Regions from separate parts of the Homo sapiens genome. Here region 2 is linked to region 1. Evidence: fine-mapped expression QTL. A gene starts in region 1. The other region holds a variant in brackets. All regions are shown on one strand. Distances are between the middles of the regions.

What was found.
Region 2: its variant is fine-mapped to the expression of TLN1 in whole blood (TOPMed, PIP 0.93).

Annotation. Positions count from the first base shown.
Region 1 is chr9:35,727,323-35,736,040 of GRCh38, reverse strand. It overlaps TLN1 (talin 1), which reads left to right and starts at 3,846. Exons shown (of 57, transcript NM_006289.4): 1 at 3,846-3,966. CREB3 (cAMP responsive element binding protein 3) reads right to left here and starts at 3,375. Exons shown (of 9, transcript NM_006368.5): 1 at 3,140-3,375; 2 at 2,898-3,045; 3 at 2,759-2,826; 4 at 2,556-2,645; 5 at 826-932; 6 at 667-735. The coding sequence starts at 3,268. MIR6853 (microRNA 6853) reads right to left here and starts at 3,119; the gene lies at 3,046-3,119. RefSeq lists enhancers at 3,250-3,339, 3,390-3,439, 4,240-4,289, 5,679-5,738, 8,134-8,718 and silencers at 3,570-3,729, 3,770-4,059.
Region 2 is chr9:35,702,095-35,710,812 of GRCh38, reverse strand. TLN1 (talin 1) reads left to right here. Exons shown (of 57, transcript NM_006289.4): 32 at 1-16; 33 at 130-252; 34 at 2,329-2,472; 35 at 2,921-3,082; 36 at 3,325-3,465; 37 at 3,560-3,741; 38 at 3,913-4,045; 39 at 4,262-4,363; 40 at 4,447-4,617; 41 at 4,702-4,851; 42 at 4,962-5,063; 43 at 5,143-5,262; 44 at 5,998-6,144; 45 at 6,315-6,481; 3 more. MIR6852 (microRNA 6852) reads left to right here and starts at 72; the gene lies at 72-137. RefSeq lists an enhancer at 1-32. The variant G/C (reference allele first, on the strand shown) is at 5,452.

The DNA.
Region 1 (8,718 bases):
AAGAGAGGGGCCAATAGTGAGCATCCCCTGGCCTAGCATCCTGAGACACAGTGAAACTCCTGTTCAGGCCACCTCCTCCATCTCTGCACTGGATCCTCTCTCTTACTTTTCATTCTATTTTTGCAAACGACTTCTTCCTCTCTGGACAAAATGCCTGAAGTTCCTCATTAAAACAACAACAACAACAAAAAGCAAAAACAAAACAAAACAAAAAAACTCTGCCAGGACTTAACCTCCTTTGCGAATATCATCAGTCGTTCCCCACTGTCTGATCAGCTATGCACATAATCCTCACCAGGCATTTTCTATGTTCTCTACCTTCTGTCCCAGCTCATGTGTGTTAAGAGTTCCAGCCCAAGATGACTATGCTGGACTAGTCCTCTTGCCTAGGATGCTTTCTCTCTGCCTAGAATGCTTTCCCAACCCAACCCCAGAATCCTAACTACTATGAAAGCCCATGACGTCTTTCTTACCCCCTTTCTTTTTCTTGGTACTTAACTTATTCTTAGTTACTTGTAAATGTATTCCTCACTACTGGGAGCTTCTTGGAATCAGAGACCTAGTGAAGGCAGCTGCCCAGTTAGAAATCAAGTGTAGGGCAGGGGAAAGAGTGAGAAAGCATTAAATGAGGGGCATAGGAAGGGAATGGTTTGGAGGGATACTTACAAATTCTGTTCCTCCAGAAGCTGTACTTTGTTCTGAAGCTCCATATTCTGGGCTGTGTATTTCAAGACCCTGGGGGAAATAACAAAGATACGGGGATATGGCCTGTATCCTCCCTTCAAAAACCTAATACTTACAACAGAGTCCCTCTCCCTTTCATACCTGCTCTCTAAACCCCCAACATACACCTTCTTTTTCCTGCGGCTCTCTTGAGCAGATCTTTTATTTCGAATCTTCCTCCGCACACGTTTCAGAATTTGTTCCTCTGTCTGAAAGGAAACAGGGAAAGGGATATCATTAGAGGAACTCTAGAAAAAGGAGTTGAAACGCAACTGAGATCAATCTCTTTCCAATACAGAAATCCCTTCTACAGCTTCCCTGACCAACAGGCATTCAGATTCTTTCTGAATGCCTCCACGGACCAGGTGTTAACCCTAACAAGCCAGACCATTTTAAACTATTAAAAAAAAAACTGGTCGGGCAGTATTCAGGCGACGTGGCTCATGCCTGTAATCCCAACACTTTGGGGAGCTAAGACAGGAGGACCGGTTGAGCCCAGGAGTTTGAGACCAGCCTGAGCAACATAGTGAGACCTTGTCTCTACTAAAAATAAAAAATTAGCCGGGTGTGGTGGCACATGCCTGTGGTCCCTGCTACTCAGGAGACTGAGGAAGGAGGATCACTTGAGCCTGAGAGGTTGAAGCTGTAGTGAGCCATGATCTCGCCACTATTCTCCAACCTGGGCAATAAAGCAAGAACCTGTCTTCAAACAAGCAAATAAAAACTTCCTTATCCTGAACCAACAGCTGCCTCCTTATAATTTCTATCCGTTGGACTTACCTAGTATCTCTGGGGCCAAATAGAATAAACCCTGTTTAGCTATTTTAAGGCACTTAACATTTCCTCAGAGCTTAAAGAAAAAAAAAAAGACAAAATTTTTAACTCATCTTCTCAGGATAGACTGCATCCTCTTAGTATCTGTCAAAGATGTGCTCTAGCCAGTATCAAGGAAAGCAAGAGAGTGACTTGTAGAGACAATAACTCTATTGCTACAGTTTCCAAATCCCATGAACTTTCTTAGTAGCCACATCACACTGCTGACTCATCTTGTACTTTGAAGAAATTAAAATTCTTCACTTTGGGAGGCCAAGGTGGGTAGATCACTTGAGCCCAGGAGTTCGAGACCAGCCTGGCAACAAGGCAAAACCCCATTTCTACTAAAAATACCAAAAAAAAAATTGCCGGGCAGGGTAGTGTGCACCTGTAGTCTCAGCTACTCGGGAGGCTGAGGTGGGAGAATCACCTAAGCCCAGAAAGTCAAGGCTGCAGTGAGCCATGATCACATCAGTGCACTCCAGCCTGGGCAACAGAGCAAGACCTTGTCAAAAAATATATATATATTCCTGTAACCTTTCTATTAATGAGCACTGATTTCATCATAGTACCCCAGTACTCTGCTTGTGAAGTTGCCACTCATTGCTTAAAACTGAAAACTAAGGATTTTACATTTATTCATGTACTGCTTAGTCCAACCCTGTTGAACTCTCTAAACAGTTCTACCATTCAGCAAGAGGTGGATTACTATGAAGCCAACGAAGTGTCAAGGCCCTTCACTTACACAGTCCTTTCCAAGGCCCAATACTAATGTTGCACTGATAATTTTGAGTTATTTTTTTAACAGAACACCAAAATTTGTATAAGCCCAACAAAAACGAGGATCTGCCCTTGCATCTGGCATATTGTGTACCTGCCTCAACTTCCTATTAGCAATAAATCTACTAAGTTTCTCACCTCAATCCTTTTTTAAAGTTATTGATATAAAGTTAACAGAATTTGCCTACTTGGGACTTTTAATCCCTTTTCAGCCTTTGTTCAACCAATGAGAGTCTTACCTTAGTGAGAGGAAGTGTCTCAGGCAGAATAAGCCCCTCCTTCTCCAATAGACTCTTCTCCTCATCTGTCAGTACTAGCCTAGCAATCTCCTAGGGTAACAAGAAAGTGGACGGCAGTTGCATGGGGATGTCAGAGAGGAATGGGGAATCCTGCCCCCACCTGGGGAATGTGAGAGTAATCTCCTGAAAATCAAGTCAAGTACCTGCTCTGCCAGCTCCTCCATATGCTGTGGAGTCATCTGGGTCCCCTCTTTTCTACAGCTCTCACTCTCTGCAAAAGGGAAAGTATGAATAGCCAGGCCCATGAACCCTGTCCTCCCCGCAAACTTATTTCAGACTCACCTAGATCCATAGAGACAGTTTCCCGTGGGAGGGAGTAGGTGTGGTCATGGTGGACAAGGCAGGGGTTGGAGGAGCTGAGAATGTTCAACGACGCTGGGGGACTCAGCAGGGAGCACAGCAAATCATCTACTTCCCAGTCGCTCGGTACCTGCGCAGGGTTCCAATGAACAGGCCTTGACCTTATCACCATCACCTGACTTCATGGACATCCCACGCTTTCCCCAGTCAGAACCCCAACCTACCTCAGAAAGCGGCAGCGCCCAGTCCAGTGGGGCCCTCACGGCCTCATCGGGTGCCGTCCCCAAATCTCCACTTTCCTCTAGCAGGAAGGCCAGCAGGTCTTGGTCACCAGCATCCAATTCCAGCTCCATTTGGGACAACTACGGAAAGGGTGGGCCACCGGGCCCCAACGTCCGAAGCCCAGACACGAGCCCCAGGCCAGCTGTAGGCCTCGGGCACCTATCCACTGTCCCTCTACGGCCGGGATTCCCCGCCGGCGGCTTTCCATAGCCCTCTCCGGACCCGCCTCCCAGGCTCAATTCTCCTCAGCCTCCAACGCAGCGAAAGTGACGCACCCCACCCCGTGGCACTGTGGGACTTGGAGTTCCCTCCAACTGAGAAGAGGCTTGGGTGCAGCGCCACGTCCCAGGGGCTATGCAAATGTAGGGGACGGCCCTGCTGCCGCCTCGCACCCCGAGGGCGGGGGTTCCGGGGCTCCGGCTCCGCCTTCTACCCCAAGCTAGAAAAAGGAAGAGTTCTAGCCTGAAAGGGAACTCGGGCGTCGTCCTGGCGTCCTCTCCGGATTGCGCCGCACCCTCGCTTCCTGCCAGGGAGGGGCTGCCGGGCTTTGGCGGCTCCCGAGCATCGAGAACGGGGCCAGAGCAGCTTCCTGCCTGCCCCCCGCGACCATAGAGCGCGGGCCCAGGGCGCCGCCCGCGGGTGGGGGACGTTCCCAGGACGGAAGTGGCCGAGAGAGTGTCGAAGGGAGGGCGAGGCCGGAGCCCGAGGGCGACCCGAGAAGCGGCGGGGCGGCGGGCCGGCGGGCGGGGCGCAGAGCCAGGCAGCGCAGGTAGGCCAGACCGGGCCGGGCGGGGGCCTTAGGGTGGGGCCGCGGGGCCTGGCCCCGGGGCGGGCGGGCCCTGCCTCTCTTGCGTGTCCGGTTCGGGTCCTATTAGTTGGAGAGGTCAGCGTCCAGCGCATCTCGGCTTGAGCTCGGCGTGAAGTAGGCCGTCTTGGGGAAGACAGGCCTTTCCTGGGAGCAGTCCTATGTCTGGGATAGGCTTTGGGGAGCGTGAGGAGTCGGGTGGCAGCGGGGCGCAGGGCGGGGACGGGCTTTGGTGTTAGCTGATAGCGGGCATGTGGGTAGGAAAGCTTTGGGTGAGTTGGGGATTAGGTGGGGTCCGTTTAGGAATCAAGGGTCGCTATAGGAGTTAAAAGCTGGGGTTAAAACTTAAGAGTTAGTGTGAGTCAGGTCCGTTTTAGATAGGTAAGGTTTAGATTACGGTCATTATCTTGTTTGCTGGGATGGCCATCATACGTCATAATTTGAGTTCAGGGTCAGGTTAAGGGTCAACAAACAACAGGAATCAGGTTAGAGCTTGTTTGAGGGATTAAAGAATGTTGGCATGGTCGGTGTTAAGGATAAACAGTGAAAGCGTGAGTTAGGAATCAAATTATAAATGAACTTTAGGCTTAGGGGTCAACATTTAGGGTTAACATCAGGGGATTTGGTGCTAAAGGCAAAACTTAGATCAGTTTCAGGGATCAGGGATTGGATATGAGTCTGTGCTAGGAAAGGGATGAATGTCCAAGCCGGTACTGGGAATCAGGAAACAAATTAGAGGTGGGGTTAATGTTAGGAATTTGGGGCAGCTTTAGGGGTTGTGGTTTGAGGCTAGCATAGTTGACCTTGAGCAGATAAAATTTAAGAGGTTGGCAGTAGGTAAATGCCCTTCTTTTGTAGGGAAATCCTTTATTCCTATGTAGTTACAGGGGCTTCTTTTTACCCAGAGAGATAAACTAATTTCAGGCTAGCGTTCTGGCTTTAGCTAGAATTGCAGGCATCTGGGATTCCAGCTTCTTTATTCCATTCTCTAAGCCCAAGGCCCTTGCTGTGGCCACCACAGTTAGGGGACAGAGATTCTGGACTGTGTTGTTTACAGACAACATAGGTGGGAAATAGGGACCCAGGATGTACAAGGCCTAGTCACAAGTTGGGGACTGCCTAGGGAAGAAGGAGCTGATGACTATGGGGGAAGCTAACCAAGGAATCACTGTTGCCATGGGAGAAGGGAATAACTGAATCCCCTGAAAGTTTAGCCCTGCTTCTCCCACTTCACTTGTTCTCTTGGTATTAAGCCCTCCTCTCCAACTCTCATCCCTGACTCTGCATTTCACACCCATCCTGCCTATCCCCTTACAAAATACTTCCCTTGCCTTTAACTCTCCCATGCTCATCTTATCATCCGTTCCCATCCTTAGTTCTACCTCCCTCACCAACCTTTAATCCGCACATCCTACCTGAATTTACCCTCATCAAAACCTGAGCTTTCCCATCATTTTAAATTACTCTCCTACCATTTTCACCCAGTCATGTACCTACATTCCACCTGGTCATCTGCTGAATACCCTACTCCCATCCCCTGCTGTGTGTCACCCCCTGGATCTAAGCCTCTTTTAATTTCTTGGACCATTTGTAGATCCCCTTCCCCCACTCCCCAACAGAAAAGAGGAAACGAGACCCAAAGAGGAAACTGGGTCTTGCTGATCCCACGCCCAGCCAGGCCACTGACCACACCCCCACTTCACTCCCAGCCTGACCCTGCCACTGACCACAGCACTATCCTCTACTCAGCCTGACCCAGCCACTGGCTGTACCCCATCCCCCATCCCAGCTCCAGCTTTACTTAGACATTGCCAATGTCCCTTCACTTTCCCACCCCCACCCCAGTCTGATTTAGTGACTGACCACAGGCCCAGCTCTTCTCAACCTCCTATAGCCTGACCTGGCCTCTGACCTCACCCCATCATTCCCTGACTTAGCCACCATCCATGTAATCATTCCCCTTCCCCCAACCTGATGCAGTGACTGGTCATATATGTATCTTATGTATATGTATTTTTCCAAACACCATCATCACCAGCATTCTTTTTCTACACCCTGTCTTCTCATCCTTTTTCTACACCCTGTCTTCCCCATTCCCAGCCTGATGCAGTCACTAACCCAACCCCATCTGCCCCTAGTGGCTACTAATCATATACTCATACCCTTTTTCCCCACAGCCTAACCACATCCCGTAACCACAGCCTCATCCTCACATTCTCTGCCCAACCTGATCCTTTCCCCTCTTCCCAATTCGTCGCCTAAACTCAAGCTGCCCCAGCCGCTAAAGTGGCTGCTGATGATAGGAAGCTGTGGGACTCTAACCTGTCTACCTTAGTAGTTATTAGGTCCTGTCATTTCTACCTCCCCAAACTTGTTCTGAGTGACATCTTCCTCAATGCCATTCCAACTCCGGCTTCATTACCTTTAATTTGTACTAATACAGTGTCCTTCTAACTAATCTCCAAGGTAACTGCCAGAGTTATTTTTCTAAAATCCAGTTCCGGTTATGTCTCTTCTCTGCTCAAAGACTCCCTTGGCTTCCTTTTGTCCTCCAATAAGTAAAATTCCTCATACCCCTCTCCAGTCTTCCTCTGCCTTTCCATCCTAACCCTGACTTCCCCACCACTGCTCCCTTGCAGGTACCCCTGTGCTTCAACAGCCTGCCTGCTCACTTCCCTGAATGCTCCTCCACGATTTACTGCTTCTCCATCTTTGCTTATGCTATTTCTCTGCCTGGAGTGAAAACTACCCCTGACACATCTCCAGCTGGCTGGCGTAGTGGAGAAAGCTTGGGCTTTGCAGTCAGAAACCTGGGTTCGGATCCTGGCTTCACAACTTATTATTTGGAGAAGTATTTGAACAAGTATTTAACATCTTTGAGTCTGTTTTCTGATCTGTAAAAATGGAAATAATGACACCTACTGTAAGGATTAAATGAAATTATGTATACAATGCAAGTGACATAGTCAATAAATGGCAGATCACTATTGTTTTTTATTATCTCTATTTTTTAAAATTCTAGCTTCAAATGATACTTATCATGGAGACTTTTTGGTTCCCCTTCCCTGACCTAAAGGGATCTCTCTGAGCACACACCTTTTGGCTCTTACCACATCCTGCCCTCCGTTGTGATTCTGTACTTGGCTTATTCACTCATCTCGTGGACTGGGAGCCCTTTGAACTCAAAGGCTAGGTCTTACTGATCTTGGTCCCCAGCCACTGAAAGTTTGGCCCAGGGTCTTCCCCACAGCTGGCCCTCAAGGAATGCTTGCTGGGTGAATGGAGAATGTCTACATAATGGGAGGAGAGACACTGGGTGCCGGGTGTGCTTGTTATGGAGGTTATCTGTGCAAAAGCTGTGTGCATAGGATGGGCTCCCTAGGAGAAGATAATGCAGTCGTGATGGGATCTGTGTGGGGGCTGTGTGATTGAGATAATGTGTGTATAGAGAGAGTAAGGTAGCTTTGTGGGAAAGAGCTCTGCCTAGGCTGGGGTGCATCTGGGGAGAATGAGTGTGCATTTGAGTATGGAGGGGCTGTACCGGGGGAAGTTCTGTGCAGCCCTTCAGCTAGCTGCCCAGTCCAGCTCTAAATGAGTCTCCAGCAGCCTGAGGCCGGATATGTCAGTCTCACCCACAGCCCTCCCCCACTGCCAGCGGTTGCGGACTCAGAGGCCAAATTTGGTAACAGACTGAGTGTTACTCCCCCATCCCTCTTATATTCTGACTGTCTTAAGCTCTTTCCTTTTGTTCCTGTCTGTAACTCCCTATCTTTCTGCAATTCCCCTTGTGGGTATCTGCTCTGACTATATTCTCCAAGTACCCCAACTTTCTTAGCTCCAATACTCTTACATTCCATTCCTTGCTGGGATTTGACCTCCTGTCCTCCATTCCCCCCCTCCAATTGCCCAACTTCTTTGGAATGCATCGCAGGAATGTATTGAGGGAGGAGGAGTTCCCTGGGAGGGGGACACGGCAGTGGGGAGTTGCTGTTCCATCAAACACAATGGAAAAGGGAGCAAAGTTCTCAGGCCAAAGGAGGAATGAGCTAGCTTCTACTCATACTTGTAGCAGCCTTGTTCTTTGCCACCACCACCCACAATTCACTGATCAGTTCTTCGCGTCCACACACCCTCTTGTAGCTGTGTGAATATCCACTCTGGACCAGCTGGGGAGTAAGGGTAGGCATGACTCAGCTCCCTTATCGGGGTCTCACCAGAGGCTTCCGTGCTTGAGGAGGAAGGGGGTGTCTAAGTGTCCAGAGGAAATGGGGGGAGACATGCAGTTTCAGCTTAGTGTGAAGGGTCCTTTCAGTCCTGCTTCTTGGCTCCACAGACTCCTCCAGCTTCTCGGATCCACCAGCCCAGCCCTCATTCTTTCATGGTCAGCAACCCCATAGCCAGGTCTGTCCAGCTGGGACACAAGCGGATAGTAATAAGGTTGGGCAAAGTGCCCCAGGAGTGGGGAGGGGGCAGAGAGCTGGAACTGGGGAGACTGGGAGGGTCCTCTCTTATTGGGGAGTAAAGACAGAGAGCTGTGGTTCTTCTCTTTTGAGACTCTGGACTGCTTGTAAGGTCAGAAATGGTCTATCTGCCACTTGGTACCAGACCGCTGATCTAGACCATTTTCATACCTGCCTCCTGTCTCTTGTTTCTACTTAGATTTTCAATTCTCCTCATCCCATCTCTCCTAACTTCTTTACCCTCTACCCCTTCTTA
Region 2 (8,718 bases), 25 kb after region 1:
AATGGAGAACTCAAAGGTCAGCACAGCCAGGAACTCGGAGGAGAGAGGGCAGTAGGATGGAGCTAACCAGATGCTGCCCTGGGGTTCTGAGGACATGCTCTGACTCCCCTGATGTCCTCTGTTCCTCAGGTGCTGGGCGAGGCCATGACTGGCATCTCCCAAAATGCCAAGAACGGAAACCTGCCAGAGTTTGGAGATGCCATTTCCACAGCCTCAAAGGCACTTTGTGGCTTCACCGAGGCAGCTGCACAGGTTATTTTCCTGAGATGGGTTCTTTGAATGGCCCCTACTTTCTTTACCCCATTTTCTCTCAGCCTGACATACCTGTAGATAAATCAAGAAGTTTATGTTTGCAAAGCCAACTCTATGGAATCTGGGTTGTCCTCCTCCTGAAGTGGAGACACTTGTCAGCAATTACTGAACACCAGCAGTTCTGATTTCTGTAATTCCTGAACCCTGGTACTTTGGTTAGGATTACACTGCCCAACCGTGAGGCCTTTTCCAGCTGGCTTTCTCAAAATATACTAATTAGCTTATACAAACTATTTTTTCATGTTATTACTACTTTCTTTTTTTTTTTTTTTTTTTTTGAGACAGCGTTTCGCTCTGTCGCCCAGGCTGAAGTGCAATGGCGTGATCTAGGCTCACTGCAAGCTCCGCCTCCCGGGTTCACGCTAGTCTCCTGCCTCAGCCTTCCAAGTAGCTGGGACTACAGGCGCTCACCACCACACCCGGCTAATTTTTTGTATTTTTTTTTTTTTTTTTAGTAAAGACAGGGTTTCACCATGTTAGCCAGGATGGTCTCGATATCCTGACTCGTGATCCACCTGCCTCGGCCTCCCAAAGTGCTGGAATTACAGGCGTGAGCCACCGCGCCTGGCCTGTAATCACTACTTTCTTTTTTTTTTTTTTTTTTTTTTTTTTTTGAGACCGAGTTTCGCTCTGTCGCCCAGGCTGGAGTGCAGTGGCGCGATCTAGACTCACTGCAAGCTCCGCCTCCCGGGTTCACGCCATTCTCCTGCCTCAGCCTCCCGTGTAGCTGGGACTACAGGCGCGCGCCACCATGCCCGGCTAATTTTTGTATTTTTAGTAGAGACGGGGTTTCACCGTGTTAGCCAGGATGGTCTCGATCTCCTGACCTCGTGATCCGCCCGTCTCGACCTCCCAAAGTGCTGGGATTACAGGCGTGAGCCACCGCGCCCGGCCAATCACTACTTTCTTAAAATAGTACTAGTGACAAAATTTCCAGTTACTTGAGTTATCACTTAACTTTGCCTTTTCCCACATTATCAAGTATAAAACTACCTATTAGCTGTAAAGTATTTTGCTTTAGTATATGAATCCTTAAAACAAACTGGCATCATAAGAGTTCACTTCAGACTATTTTCCCTGAAAGCCTACCATCCTAGCCCTCCATCTCCACCACCTCCCTGTGCCCTGTCAGAATAGGCGCCTTGCTCTAGATGGCTTGTTTGATTTTGTTTTTTTGTTTTTTTGGTTTTTTGTTTGTTTGTTTTTTGAGACGGAGTCTCGCTCTGTCGCCAGGCTGGAGTGCAGAGGCATAATCTCGGCTCACTGCAACCTCCGCCTCCCGGGTTCAAGTGATTCTCCTACCTCAGCCTCCCGAGTAGCTGGGACTACAGGCGCCTGCCACCACACCCGTCTGATTTTTGTATTTTTAGTAGAGACAGGGTTTCACTAAACCTCTTTGTTGTTTGTTTGGTTTTTTTCCCCCCACCTTCTGAAAATGCATAGAGGAAAAAGCAAAGCTACTGTGTATTGATTGAAGTATGAATCAAACATTAGGATGTTCTTTCCATCATAAAAATGGCTTTTTAACCCCTCCCTTCCTTTCCAAATATCTGACGCATGGAGGTGCTATAAATGTGAATTAGCCTAATAACCTTCATCAGTTTTGAACTGTCTTTAAAAGAGGCTTTGCTTGTGTGCACAAAGGTGTGTATTTATATATGGCTCTCAAACGTTTTACTGCTACTTACAGTAAGCCATACTTTTCACTCTAAGACCCAACATACACAAACATATCTAAATAGAGATTGGATAAAAACCCTTGCTATGTAGTTTTCCTTTTTATTAACTTTTTTAATCTTCTGAAATGCTTGAATATACTTAATGAAAACAGGAGAGTATTTTTTTTCTTCTTTATAGTGTAACCATTGTTTGCTAATGTATCTCCACTCATGGAGAACTCTGGAAAATAAGCCCTATTCTCTAAACTTACCTCTGCTCTCTTTTGTCCCTACTATCACTATTCATTTCCCACCTGCAATCTTTATTCCTCACCCCCACCCCCTTTTCTCTTCCCAGGCTGCATATCTGGTTGGTGTCTCTGACCCCAATAGCCAAGCTGGACAGCAAGGGCTAGTGGAGCCCACACAGTTTGCCCGTGCAAACCAGGCAATTCAGATGGCCTGCCAGAGTTTGGGAGAGCCTGGCTGTACCCAGGCCCAGGTAACTCAAGGGAACAGGGACCACAGGCGAGTCTGGGAAAGGGCAGACCGACCCCGTGGAGTAGAGGGAGGTGAGGCATGTGGGAAAGAGGGCAGGGACCCATCTCTGACCTTGCACACACAGCTTCTTTTTGGGTAACTGTCTTTTTCTGCCATGGGTCTCATCATTTATCAGTTACTGCTAAATTCACAACTTCTCTGTAGATGTTCGAGCTTACTCTCCCACATGCCCTCTTATGGTTTCTCCATTAGTATGTCTTTCCTCTCCCATGCCCAGTTCATCTTTGGGTATCTCTGTCTCCTAGATCTTGACTTTTCAGGTGACTCTGTTATTCCTGTTTTGACTCCTCAGGGTATTGCTCTCCATCCCCTGACCCTAAAATGGCTCCTCCTTGGGTATGTACACCTCCTTCCTGCCCTCATCGTGGCTCTTCCATGTGTCTCCTCAGGTGCTCTCTGCAGCCACCATTGTGGCTAAACACACCTCTGCACTGTGTAACAGCTGTCGCCTGGCTTCTGCCCGTACCACCAATCCTACTGCCAAGCGCCAGTTTGTACAGTCAGCCAAGGAGGTGGCCAACAGCACAGCTAATCTTGTCAAGACCATCAAGGTTCCCATTGCTTGAATTCCCAGCCTCTCCCTGACCTGTCCTATCTTCTCCCCCGAGTCCCCCAGTTATTCTCTGAAGCCTTCTACCAAATCCCCTCTGCCTGAGCCCAAGCTCTTTCTATTCAGACTGACCACCTAGCCTCTCCCCAAATCCTGTAAGTCCCAGGAAGGAGACCTGGACTTCACTTCCTATACCCCCTATGACTGCATCCCAAGTCCTGAGAGCCTCTCTGTCACTTCTAGGCGCTAGATGGGGCCTTCACAGAGGAGAACCGTGCCCAGTGCCGAGCAGCAACAGCCCCTCTGCTGGAGGCTGTGGACAATCTGAGTGCCTTTGCGTCCAACCCTGAGTTCTCCAGCATTCCTGCCCAGATCAGCCCTGAGGTGAGGCGATGTGAAGGGGGAACTGATGGGCCAGCTTATCACCTCATCTTCCAGGGACTCCTGAGACTTACCTTCCTGCCTCCCCTCTCCCCAGGGTCGGGCTGCCATGGAGCCCATTGTGATCTCTGCCAAGACAATGTTAGAGAGTGCCGGGGGACTCATCCAGACAGCCCGGGCCCTCGCAGTCAATCCCCGGGACCCCCCGAGCTGGTCGGTGCTGGCCGGCCACTCCCGTACTGTCTCAGACTCCATCAAGAAGCTAATTACAAGCATGAGGTATTGAGGGATGGGGAACCAGTGTGGCTGGGGGGCATACATTGTGGCAGAATGGAGGATGGGCACTTGAGTGCAATGAGATGGGATGGTGTTGGGAGGATACAGGGGAAGGATAGGCTGGCCTTGCAGTAGGGGATGTTCTTGGTGTTGGAGCCCATGATGTGTCTGCAGGGACAAGGCTCCAGGGCAGCTGGAGTGTGAAACGGCCATTGCAGCTCTGAACAGTTGTCTACGGGACCTAGACCAGGCTTCCCTCGCTGCAGTCAGCCAGCAGCTTGCTCCCCGTGAGGGAATCTCTCAAGAGGTGAGAGGGAGAGGGTTATATGGAAAGATGTGTCTAGGAAGAGAAATATCAGACTCAAAGAAGCTGGGGGATCAAGGAGTGGCTTCTTAGGGACATCAAAGGCTGGGATGTGCGAAGGAGGGTTAGGGTATTTGGTATGGACAGAAGAGCAGTTCTTTGTAGCCAGAGGGTCCTATTGCAGGTCACCATCAGGGCTAATGTCCACTTCCTCCCCAGGCCTTGCACACTCAGATGCTCACTGCAGTCCAAGAGATCTCCCATCTCATTGAGCCGCTGGCCAATGCTGCCCGGGCTGAAGCCTCCCAGCTGGGACACAAGGTACCTATGGAGACTCATGGGAAGTCCCAGGGAGTAGGGTGAGAGAGAGGGGACCTGACCCCTAGTCCAACCCCTTGCCTCAGGTGTCCCAGATGGCGCAGTACTTTGAGCCGCTCACCCTGGCTGCAGTGGGTGCTGCCTCCAAGACCCTGAGCCACCCGCAGCAGATGGCACTCCTGGACCAGACTAAAACATTGGCAGAGTCTGCCCTGCAGTTGCTATACACTGCCAAGGAGGCTGGTGGTAACCCAAAGGTATTGAGGGTTGGGAGGGAGGAGCTGTTACTAGCAGGAGGCTGGAGAAACAGGAACAACAGAGCTCCTCTCCTCTCCCCACAGCAAGCAGCTCACACCCAGGAAGCCCTGGAGGAGGCTGTGCAGATGATGACCGAGGCCGTAGAGGACCTGACAACAACCCTCAACGAGGCAGCCAGTGCTGCTGGGGTCGTGGGTGGCATGGTGGACTCCATCACCCAGGCCATCAACCAGGTTAGAGTCTTGGGGTGCCTTTGGACACTGAGGCTACCCTGGGCCAGAGCCTCCAAGCACAGTGGCAGAGACCCTAACAGTCTTTCCCTTTCCCTATCCTCCCCCCTCAGCTAGATGAAGGACCAATGGGTGAACCAGAAGGTTCCTTCGTGGATTACCAAACAACTATGGTGCGGACAGCCAAGGCCATTGCAGTGACCGTTCAGGAGATGGTGAGTTTGGGCGAGTCCCAGAGGACTGCCCTCGGAGAGCTGACTTTGGATATAACTTCACTCGTTCCATTATCACCAGGTTACCAAGTCAAACACCAGCCCAGAGGAGCTGGGCCCTCTTGCTAACCAGCTGACCAGTGACTATGGCCGTCTGGCCTCGGAGGCCAAGCCTGCAGCGGTGGCTGCTGAAAATGAAGAGGTAAACGTGGAGGCAACTCTGCCCTGCCCCCTGCCCCTTGTTCCTGATGTGTCAGTGTCTAGGGCTGTCCCACCCCCACCCTCTCTGGTCTTTCATAGAAAGGGGAACAGCCTCAGGGCCACTCTGCTGAAGACTAGTGAGGCTCTGGGTAGGGACAGAGGATCAAAGCCTTCAGTCACAGGTACAAAG[G/C]AAACAGCTCAGAATCTGGAGCCTTCCCGGGCCTGCCTTTCTGGCTTCTGCCGACCCTCATCTGGGCCTACAGCTGCTTCTCTGTTGTGCTGCCAGTCCATGTTCTTGTTCTTTCTTGTTGCAAACTCATGAAGCTCTTCCTTACCTAAGCCTCTAGCTTTCCAAGAAAGCAAGTAATTGGATCTTAGCAGGACACATGTAATGCCCATCCTTAAAACCCTCCATAACCCCATACAGGCCACATGGTAATCCACGGCCCTCTGATTCCCACATTCAAGCATAAAGTGCTCCTCCCCTTCTCCCCACTGTGCTTAACACAATCCTCACCACTTAGTGCCTGCGTGCTACTATTTTCTGTGTGTAGGAGGTGACCTTCTGCCTAAAGGATATGCAACCGGAAACGTCCTTGTGCTGGGAACCTTCTCTCTCTGCTTCTTTAGTCTACAATGCATGTTTTTTTCTATGTCCTTAGTGACTTTTCCAAGCACAGTGAAGGTACCCTGAGTGCCCCTTGTAAAATCCATCTGTCTTTCCCTTGGCTCACAGATAGGTTCCCATATCAAACACCGGGTACAGGAGCTGGGCCATGGCTGTGCCGCTCTGGTCACCAAGGCAGGCGCCCTGCAGTGCAGCCCCAGTGATGCCTACACCAAGAAGGAGCTCATAGAGTGTGCCCGGAGAGTCTCTGAGAAGGTGACGGTGCTCATCCCTGCAGATGGTGGGACTGCCTCCAAACTCTGTAGCCTTTGCCATCCTCCTCCAGCCCTCTCAGCCCTCTCCTGTTGTCACTTCTCCCAGGCATGGGCAACCTTTCCATTTCACATGGCACCTTCCACAGTCACCATGTGACATTCCCTACCCAGGTCTCCCACGTCCTGGCTGCGCTCCAGGCTGGGAATCGTGGCACCCAGGCCTGCATCACAGCAGCCAGCGCTGTGTCTGGTATCATTGCTGACCTCGACACCACCATCATGTTCGCCACTGCTGGCACGCTCAATCGTGAGGGTACTGAAACTTTCGCTGACCACCGGTAAGACAGGAACTGGGCCTAAGGGAGGCAGACAGGTCGGGGCACGGGGCTGGAAGAGGCAGGATAGCATTCGCTGGAATGGGGAAGACCTGGACCAGGCACCTTGGACGGGCTGGAGCGGGTAGGGGAGATCTGACTAAGCTGGGCCCTCCCTCAGGGAGGGCATCCTGAAGACTGCGAAGGTGCTGGTGGAGGACACCAAGGTCCTGGTGCAAAACGCAGCTGGGAGCCAGGAGAAGTTGGCGCAGGCTGCCCAGTCCTCCGTGGCGACCATCACCCGCCTCGCTGATGTGGTCAAGCTGGGTGCAGCCAGCCTGGGAGCTGAGGACCCTGAGACCCAGGTAGTGACCTGATGCCCCTAATTCCGGCTGGAATCACTTCCTGTCCCGCTTCTTCCTCCCATAGACCAGAGCCAACGCTTTCCCACACAGGTGGTACTAATCAACGCAGTGAAAGATGTAGCCAAAGCCCTGGGAGACCTCATCAGTGCAACGAAGGCTGCAGCTGGCAAAGTTGGAGATGACCCTGCTGTGTGGCAGCTAAAGAACTCTGCCAAGGTTGGAGAGAATGAGAGCAACATCAGGAGGGGCACTGGATTAACATACTTCCTCCTGTTCCTTAAAATCATTCCTCTTCACTCCTCTGATACCTCCAGGTGATGGTGACCAATGTGACATCATTGCTTAAGACAGTAAAAGCCGTGGAAGATGAGGCCACCAAAGGCACTCGGGCCCTGGAGGCAACCACAGAACACATACGGCAGGAGCTGGCGGTGAGTGAGAGTCTGGGGCATCAGTGACTAGGGTCAGAGAGAGGGATCCTGAAAGCCTGTGAACCTGTGCCACACATATACTCACAGCTGGAGTCACACACAGTCTTCTCTCTCATCTATCGCCAGACTTTTTTTTTGAGAAGGGTCTTGCTCTGTAGCCATCCTCCTCCAGCCTTCTCAGCCCTCTCCTCTTGTCATTTCTCCCAGGTGTGGGTGACCTTTCCATTTCACATGGCATCTTCCTCAGTCACCATGTGACTTCCCCTACCCCAGCTCTCCCACACCCTCCTTCTGGAGTGCAGTGGCGTGATCTCAGCTCACTACAACCTCCACCTCCCAGGTTCAAGTGCTTCTCATGCCTCAGCCTCCTGAGTCACTGGGAATACAGGTGCATACCATGCTGGCTAGTTTTTGTATTTTTAGTAGAGATGGGGTTTCACCATGTTGACCAGGCTGGTCTCGAACTCCTGGCCTCAAGTGATCCACCCGCCTTGGCCTCCCAAAGTGCTGGGATTACACTCATGAGCCACTGTGCCAGTGAGCTACATTCATGTCTGTCCCCTACCCACTTGTTTATTCCTTAGCATGTGACAACTGTATTTTTTCACCACCCTCCCACTTTCTCCAGTCACTAGTGGCCTCTTCTTAGTTGCTACATTCAGTGGCCACTTCTTGGCCTTCATCCTCTTTGAATATTTCGAAAGCATCTGACTGTGTTAACAAGCCTCTCTTTGAAATTCTTTCTTCTGCTGGGCATGGTGGCTCACGCCAGCACTTTGGGAGGCCAGCGGGTGTAATCCCAGCACTTTGGGAGGCTGAGGCGGGTGGATCACAAGGTCGGGAGTTCGAGACCAGCCTGGCCAATATGGTGAAACCCCGTCTCTACTAAAAATACAAAAATTAGCTGGGCGTGGTGGCACGCGCCTGTAGTCCCAGCTGCTTGGGAGGCTAAGGCAGGAGAATCGCTGGAACCCGGGAGGCAGAGGTTGCAGTGAGCCAAGATGGCGCCACTGCACTCCAGCCTGGGCAACAGAGTGAGACTCCATCTCAAAAAAAAACAAAAAAGAAAAAAAATGAAATTCTTTCTTCCCTTGGCCTAGATACTGGCTTTTCTCTTGTTTCTCGAACGTCATTGAATCACCTTTAACTTAGTAAATGTGGAGGCCTTCCCAGGGTTGTACAAATAGTCTTCCTTCTCTCTTCTCTTCTTTGGCAAGTTTAACCACTTTCATTATTATTCTGTAAGAAGCAGACATCCAGTTCTGAGTTGAGTTATTTTCAACTGCCTGTTTGACATCACCACCTAGATGCAGTGCCTCCGAACCATGACATGGTCCTCCTAATGGTGGGAACACCCTTGCAGTCATGAAGATTCCACCTCAGTCATCTTTGACTTCACCATCTTAGCCACCATATCCAGGCTGTTGCCACGTCCTTTCATTCCTCCTCCCTGGTTCCCTGTCCG